Linked DNA regions of Homo sapiens: region 1 is linked to region 2. The links come from fine-mapping of genetic effects on gene expression. A gene starts in region 2. The other region holds a variant in brackets. All regions are shown on one strand. Distances are between the middles of the regions. Region 1 overlaps FOXP1 (forkhead box P1). Region 2 holds the start of FOXP1 (forkhead box P1).

Region 1 (4,391 bases), 630 kb before region 2:
GAATGGATCATGGATCTACTGAAGGAAGGAGCTGTGCAGGGGTGGGAGGGACTGCTAGGCTGTGTTCTTGAGGTGAGTGTTTTTAGATGTGATGCATTTTGTGGGAAGGAAATCAGTACTTTATGTATATGGCTACTAAACCCTTCAGCCCAGCTGAACACTTTAAAAAATTATTTTTGTTTTTTAGATTCAGGGGGTACATGTGCAGTTTTCTTACACAGCCAGCTGAATACTTCTAAAGAATTTAAATTTCTGGTCAGACAAATAATGCTCCGACCTGTTTGGCAGATTTTTTTTTTTCTATCCATAGAGTCCTAAAGTAGCAAGCTTGATTTGAAAAGAAATTATTAGTAAACATTTGAAAATGTGAAACAAATTATTCCCCAAACACTTAGCTCCTTCCTTCAAATACACGCTTGAAAAATGCTAAAATCTATTCTGCGAGAATGCTTGAATCTCTCCCTAAATCATAACACGGGTAAACTTACCGAACTATTTTTACAATTTTATTAGAGGTTTTAATTCACTGCTTTATCTATCTCTGTTAGACTGCAAAATAGCTTTAAATATTCAAGTGGTAATTAATGAATCTTTTATGTTGCAAATCAAACATTTTTCATCTGTGCACTGGTGGAGTAGCAGTGAGGAAGGATTTAAAGAGTAATTGTTCCCCCTCTTCCCCACTGGTGACCAGCATCTACGTTACGTTTTGGGGAAAGTGGGCTTGTGTTCCCTGCCCAGTGGGGTGAATGCGCAGTGTGAATGATGTCTGATGTCTTTCGGGAGGTCAGGATTTCTTGACATGTTTCTTGCCAGAGACATTCCCGACTAGATGGAAAGTCTTTGAATGTGGAATTTTTGCTTGAGTGCAAAATAATAAAAAGCATGTGTATGTTTGAAAAAAAAAAAAAGGATCAGCTTAATGGCAAAAGAGCATTGGCTTACATTAATATTCTATTACAGTAAAAACTTCTGTTTAATAAATTTTCTCCAGACTTTTTTCCTCCAGAATCTCACATATTTTTCTAAGTGGCATGCCAACCTAAAGAAAGTATATATGATACATTTGATTGATGTTAAGTCAATAGCGTGCAAAAGCCATTTAAAATTGTATTTTAAGTGTAGAAATATAAACCCAAGGAAACATGTATAGTACCCTATATTGAAAAGGGGAAAAAGGGTTAGCTTTTCAGGGGCTGAAATGCCTTGTAAATATTATTCTGTTTAGAAGATAGTTTTAAAATGTGGCGTTTTATGTCCAATAGTAAGAAAGCAAGTCTGAAATCCTGCGATTTAGTTTAAAACCCAAAATCAAGCTGGTATTAAAGACTTCGCATAACAAAATAGTTTTCCTTTTCTCTCTCTGTCACTAATGAGAAATGAGCCAGTGAGAGCAGCCCTTCAGAACTTTCACAAAGGACTGACAAATTCTTGATTGGATGCCATATCGGCCACCCTCTGCTGTTCTATGGCCCTAATTAATACTGGGCTTGGTGACATTTATGTATCAGAGCAGTAAGCTAAACAGGAAACAATTTATGTCACCTAAAGCTTTTTAACAAATCGATGCAACTATTTGTAATTGCTTGTTTCACAAGATTAAAAGTGCTAAGGCCTGATCTTCGCCCACGGATTTGTGGTCAACATGACCTGTGCTTCCGTTGTTTAAAAAAGAAAGAAAGAAAGAAAGAAAGAGTTGGTGATCAGCACTGACTTCCATCAAGTAATCCATATTGCTAATATTTCTGGAATTTTAATGTAGTTACAATTTATAGCCGATCAAATGTGGTTACCTAAATTGCTGTTGCTAGTAGACAGTTTAACTGTCTTTATTAATTACAGTATAATTTAATGTTTGAGTACCGGCACTTGTGTTGGTCATTTTTACAGCTC[G/T]AGCAGTTATCTGCCTTATGACGAACCATTTTAGCATTTTCAATGGAAATTTGCTAATATGATGAGTGATAAAAATGTCACACGCTGGTAAATAATGATTATTGCTTTGGCTGAAATTAATTCTTGAAAGGCCGGTTACCTTCAAATTAACATTATAACTTGAAGCTTGTCTTTTTCCCTTCACAATATTTTCAATATAAACCAAAAAAAAAGGACCGTTGATAATTTCAAATGTGTATATATATATATATTTTGGTATTAAGCATTGAATGTCATTTTACAATCAAAGTGGAAATAAGACAACATTGGGTTTTGTTATTTTAAAAAATAAAATACCATTTAAAAATAAATATAAGTAGGTTATATCTAGAGATGGTTTTCTAATCCAAATATTGTCCCACAGTTAAAACCAGTGTTTTTGTATGTAACTTAATTTCCCTCCAACGTGAATTTTGTCTTAAACCTTTCATCAATTCATTAAATGAAGGTTTGAGACACCCAACTTCACATTATTTGAATAAAGAATACTTTTATTTGATTCAACTACAATGAAGATGAAGGATAAATTGTGATTACTACCCTACACATAAATACGTAATATCATCAAAGACAAAAATCTAATAAGAAAGACTAATTATACTTTGTTTTTATCTTTTTTAGTGGGGAGGGAGAGGTGGTTACTATTATGAAGCTGCCTGTGTTGGTGTGAAATTAGTCTTAAGAGTTTTATGTTCTTTATATAAAGGCGCCTATTTATAAGAAGAGCCAATATTTTGGGTTTGCTGCCTCGTTTATGAGAGTGACAAGCCTGAAATAAATATGTAAAAGAGTGTTCCTGCTTGAGAACAATTCCTGAAATATAAGTTAAAATGTACTATGCCTCAACCAGCAAAATCTTCACTAACATATCGTCATACTTGGTTTAGGTCCTCCAGTTTATTAAAAGAAGTATCTGTACATTTTTAAATTTTACTAATGTATAGGCTGTAAGCAGTATTTAGGTTTAAGCCTGGTAATTACAGGAATTTGAATTAACCCTAAGATTATAGTCTCAGTAGCCAGGTGAGAATTAAAGGTTCAAATGTTTTGCTAATTATTGAGACTAAGGGGTTTCTAGATAGGGCATAATTGTTAATTCAAAGAGGACACTAGTTTGCAACTTAATAGCAAAATCTACTTGTTAAAAACACACACACAGACACACACACACAACTTTGCTAATATGGGCTTTTCAAAACAATGCTGGGAAAGAATGTTCACTTGTATCCTCAGCATCGGTGGGTGTTTTGCAGAATAAAGACTGGGAGGTTAATTTTCAAGTCATCCTTTGCCCTGAATTATGTGCTCTGAATTATATATGTAATGGTTTTATGTTACCACGGTTTGGCCACTTAAAATACTGCTTTCATATTGGCAATTTAATTTTTTATTGAAAGGTGATGCTCAAATTCATTAATCCCTAGAATATATACTATAGAGTAATATTAAAAAGAAACAGCACATTTCCTAAATGCATCTAATTATTTTTTTAAAATCTCAAAATTAAGATGGTTTTTCTGGAATATTTAGGTACTGAAGTTCTGTTTTCTTCAATGAATGCAATTATCTAGCATACTTTTGATAGAATATTTTTATAAAATCATTTGTTCTAATCTAAGCATTTATCATTATATGCAAAAAGATTTCTTGATGAGAATATTATAGACGGTGCATGTTTTTGACATTAGCATTTTATTTGGATGACTAATCTTGCAGATGTGAAATTTTAATGAATTATTCATGAAATTGCTTTCCTCTGAAATTTTAGTTTGCTCTTAATGCTAGTTATTAAACATTTTGTTTTTCTTTATAAAATTTGATGAAAAAAATAAGAGTGTGCTTCCTCAAGAGAAAAGATAACATCTCTTGCTCTTTTTTTTTTACTTCCCAATTCTCTAAGTGGATACTTTCACTTGGAAATCCTGAGGATAAGAGCTTCAGCCTTCCCTGATCATGAAAGCTTTAAGATTGATTTTAATTCTGCATTGGAAGCAGCTGGTGATAAACCTAAGGCATATGCCTAACATACAATATCAGCAGGTCAGAAAGGGAAACAAACTTAGGCTGTGGCAACTTTTACTACCAGCGTGAACAACCAGCATTTTTATTGCATTTGAGAATGCTTATAATGTCAGTAATTAGTACTGACTACACAACATTTTTTTTATTGTCTGTATCCGCAGACATGGAATGATGGAATTACAGTTGATGTCAAGGAATGAGTTTCTTTTATGCCTTATCAAAACAAAACAAAACAAAACAAAAAAATTCTTGTTACTGGCAGCACATATACATGAAGCACCATGCTCACAGTCCGGACTGTATCATCTTCATCAAGGCTTATGGGTAGCAGAGATTGCGTGAGCTACACTGGGCCCAAGAAATGCCTTCAGCATTGTAAATCTGATTTTCAGGATAAAGAAGCAAAACTGACTTTGAAGACATCCAGAATTTCAGGA
Region 2 (4,318 bases):
CCCCGGCGCCGCTGCCGCTGCCCCCGGCCCGCTCGCTCGCTCGCCGCGCGCTCTCTTCCTCTTACAAACTTTCGGGTTCTGCAGTCGACAAGAAACCGGGGCGACCCTCAGCAAGTCTTCCCCGTGCAGGCTGGGGGGAACTGAAGGGGACGGGACGGGTGAGTAGGCCGAGGGGCCAGGACAGAGAGGGCAGCGGGCTCCGAGGACCCGCGAGTGCGCGTGGAGGGAAGAGAGGATGCGGCTCAGGGAATCCCTGCAAGGATCCAGAGACCGGGAAATCGGCCCGAGCCAAAGTCTCAGCACCTTCCCCAGGATCTCACAAAGTTGCAACAACAAAAAGGAGGGGGGAGGAATAGGGAGAAGGGGGTGGGATGGGGATACGATCACGGGCGCAAGGTTTGGAGTTACAACTGTTTATTTAGTCCTTATTCTCACAGGGGGCGGGAGCTGCGCGGGAATGGGGGGCTGCAGGCAGCGATTTCGAAGCAAACACATGGGAGGGGGGCATGCGACTTTGTTTCCGGGAGCGGAGCTCCCCAGAGCCCGTGTGTGTCACTGCCAGTCTCCCGGGACCAAGGCGGAGCTCACAACAGGTGGGGAGGGGGGCTCGTCGAGGGCCAAAAAGAAGAAGGAATCTAAGTTTCCGAGCGCGACGTTGTCTGAAAAGGAGGGAGGCGGGAGGCGGGGGCGAGGGAAGGCGGAGGCAGCAAATGACCGCGACCCCGCGGCAACTGGCAAACTCCTCGGCTCCCGGCGCCGCCGCCACCGCCGTGGTCCCCACTCGAAGCGCACGCCGCCTCGGCTCGCTGGCTCCAGGGAGTCGTCTCGGCGGGACAGGAATAGAGCGCAGGGAGCTCGGGAGGAAGGCTGCGCGCAAGCGAGGGACGGAGAGCCATCGGCCGCCAGGACAGGGCCGGAGGGACGAGGCGACACGCGCGCGACGCAGGACAAATCGGAGCTTGGGAAATCTCCCCGTCCCCCAAGCTTCAGAGGGGGGTAAAATCAGAAAATGTGTGTGATGGTGGGAGAGAGATCCGGGCGCGGCGACTCCTCGCAGCGCATCCGGCTCCCGCACCCACCCGTGGATCTGGCCACGGCTGTTGCGGACTCGTCTCGGGAAAGCGGAGGCCGAGCGCGCGTAGGGGTGCGTGTCTGGCTGGGGGTGCGCAGGTGCGTGTTTGAATTTTCCGGGCTCCGAGGGGGTGGCGGGAGAGCTTCCTCGCCGCTGACTCTCGGGGTAACGCGCGCGTGGCAGCGGGGAAGTTCCCCAGTGCGGGGCCCAGGGCCAGGCACCACAGTCAGTTTGCTGGGGCCCGCGGGGCAGCTCAAGGGCACCGAGGGGGCACACACCCGCGGGGAAAGAAGGGGAAAAGTTTGCTCCAAGTCTAAACTTTGGGCCTAGGAGGCGCCCGGCGCGCGCCCCCTCCCGCCGCGGCCAGGACCCGGGACCCCGCACCGGCCCCGCGCCCGGGCGGCCACCGGACGCCAACGCCGGACATCGAAAGTTGCGCCAGGCGGCCTGGGCTTATTGATTTCTCTCCCCTAGGCGATCGTGGAGAGCGCAGAGAGAGGCGTGAAGGGGCCTACGGGCAGGCGATCTCGCCTCCTCACAGTCGCCACCGCCCCCGCCCCCATTTGACTTATGCAAATAAACCCAAAGGGTGCGGGCGCCGCCGGAGCTCCCTCCACCCGCGCGCCGGCCCGCAGCCCCCACCCATCCCAGAGCTGGGCCTCGACCCGGGGGGGAGAGGAAGAGAGGGGAGGGCTGGGGGAGATGCACGTGGAGCCTGGAGGTGGAAAGTAGTTGTTTTTTTTTTTCCATTTTTTTTCTCTTTTTCTTTCTTTCTTTTTTTTTTTTTGTGCTGGTTGTTGTTGTTGTTTAAAGTGGCGGAAACAAGACAGGAGGCGGCTTGGGAAAAAGTGGAGCAGAAATGGAAAAATACAAACTCACCCGCTGCAAATGGTCTCTCGGTGCAAACTAAGGTGTTTTCGGGCCTTTCCCCGCGCGCGCCCACTCCCGCCCGCGCGCGCACCCCGCGCACACACTCACTCGCGCACACACGCGCGCACACACGCACTCCCGGGCGAGGGCCGGGCCGCCGCGAGTACAGCGTGCAACCGCCACACAATAAATAACAATAGATTCCTCCGCTCCGGACTAGCTTCCCGGAGCCCAGCCAGCGCCGGTGGCGGCGGCGGCGGCGGCAGAGGCGCGGGCAGCACCGGCCCGGGGGCGCACCCCGGCCCGACCCTCTACCTCCCGCAGGGGTCCCCTCTCCGCTTCACGCACCCCGCTGGGCACTCCAGCGGCCCCCCGAGCGGGAGCGGCTCCCTCTTTGCCGTTCGCCGGGGCGCTGGCGCCCACCCCCCTCCTCCCTCCCCCCTCCCCCCCGACATCCCGGAACAAATAAATAAATAAGGCGCGCGAGAGAGGCCAACACGTCGCGGAGGGAGATGTTGTTATTTTTTGCTGTTGTGCGTCCCTGACGTCACATCCACCTGCTGGGTAAACAACCGGGCTCCCAGAAAAAAAAAATCGCAATTGCCAAAGAATGGGGGGGGGGGTTGGGGGGAGGGATCCAGGGAGGGGGAAGTGAGGGGCGTCCAGGCAGGATTGGAAAGAGGAGAGGGAGGCAGAGCCCCGCGGACCAGAGAGAGGAAGGGAACGCCAGAGCAGTCCCTGGCAACAGAGGGATCTGGCAGGAAAGACCTGGAAAATAAGGGGCAGGGGGGCGGAGGGGGAGATTCCTCAGGAGATGGGAAATGGGGGGCCCATTCAGACAGCGGAAAAAACGAGAAGGGAGAGTGTTAACTAGGGACGAAGATGGGAATGCGATGGCTATTTGCTTGGATTCTGAGCTAAAAATATGAAAGGGAGGGGAGAGGACAGGCTAGAATGTGAGTTTCCTCCAGTTAAAAGTGAAAGTGTTTTGCCATCAGTGACAGTTGAAGGAGAGCGGGGTGGGAGGTGGTGTTTTCAACCCCCTTTCTCCCTCTCTCCCGTCCTCCCTCGGTCTCTCCTCTTTCTTTCTGCACTTTGTCCAATGAAAGAAGGCGAGTTCGGGAGGTGAAAGTTCAGCAGAAGGACAAACCCCTGTTTGCAAGGAAACAGAAACCCCGCCAGCCAGCGAGGGGTTTTCTCCCCTGTTTCTCGGAATCAGGAGAGTGTGAATGTGGGACGAGCTTCTGCCCCCTTGTCAGAGCCACTGCAGGAATGTGCAATCGAGTCCACTTTGGGGGAAGGTGGCTGCATCAGGAACTGTGTTCTTGCCACGACTCCTCTTAGGAAAACGCCTGGGGGCTAGCATGTCAGTCCGTTGTTTAACACAAATTACCTGCTCTCCCAGTGATCAGTCACGTGCAAAAAGCTTTGTCCAATTCTTTGAAAAGGTGAGATTTTTTTTTTTCTTTTTGCGGTTTTTGAAGTTTGGTTGAATTTAGAAATTCGAAGGAATAAACTAAGAGCCTGAATTAAATGTTTTGAAATATACATACATAAAACAAAAGACACTAGTATTTCTTTCACTTTTATCAATACGCATAGAGAAGGAAGCAGAGTATGTGTTTCCAAAACGTGACTTGGAAAGCTGTAAGACCTCTATGTCTTGTTGTTGTTGTTGTTGTTGTTGTTAACAGAAGTAAATTTTTTCAGACCCACCACCACAGAAGTGGCCAGACTCCCAAACCAGCATTTCCAGCTACTGGCTGGCTGGTGTACACCAGGCCAATTCTTTATGAGAATATATTAAAAGTCACCCCTGTGGATTCCTACAAAGTACTTCCCCTTGCGGGGAGGGGAGAGGCTTACTGTCCCTTTGGTCTTGAGACCAGCACAGTTGTAGATAATATCCTGAAAAGGTTATTATTAAATTCTTTCGCGTAATGCCCCTTTACAAATATTGTTAAACATTAATTTACAGAAGAACTTAAATCTTAATTTCAAGGGTGGCATAAGACTATCGCTTTGAAATTGTATCTTTCGCAAGTTAAAAAAAAAAAATAACAAAGCCATTCGCTGATGCTACAGAATAAAAGAAAGGGAGGCTGCTAAGGTAATTTCAGCCTGGTAGAATTCACATTGCATGCATGCTGCATAAAGTTCCATGCTATCCAGATAAGACTATTCACTGAATCTTTTAGACTAGAATCTAGACCAATAAAATGCATTTTAGTTTGTATGGAATGTCCTAGCTTCCTAGAGGCTAGGGTTCGACGTCTTGTTTGTCAAGACATAAAGGGATTAATGACATACCCACTGTGTGCTAGACCACAGAGTGGGCACAGAGGGATGAAAAAATAAAAATTCCTGCCCTTGAGG

What was found. PIP is the estimated chance that this variant, and not a neighbour inherited with it, causes the effect. A credible set is the group of variants that fine-mapping cannot tell apart.
Region 1: its variant is the best candidate, but not a certain one, in a credible set for the expression of FOXP1 in whole blood (TOPMed, PIP 0.69).

Annotation. Positions count from the first base shown.
Region 1 is chr3:70,950,702-70,955,092 of GRCh38, forward strand. It overlaps FOXP1 (forkhead box P1), which reads right to left. Exons shown (of 21, transcript NM_001349338.3): 21 at 4,007-4,391. Among named protein-coding and RNA genes, the nearest start is that of FOXP1-AS1, 340 kb to the right of the region's middle. The variant G/T (reference allele first, on the strand shown) is at 1,894.
Region 2 is chr3:71,581,620-71,585,937 of GRCh38, forward strand. FOXP1 (forkhead box P1) reads right to left here and starts at 2,109. Exons shown (of 21, transcript NM_001349338.3): 1 at 1,952-2,109; 2 at 1-78. It overlaps FOXP1-DT (FOXP1 divergent transcript), which reads left to right and starts at 3,324. Exons shown (of 1, transcript NR_182289.1): 1 at 3,324-4,318. RefSeq lists a silencer at 1,982-2,221 and an enhancer at 2,299-2,593.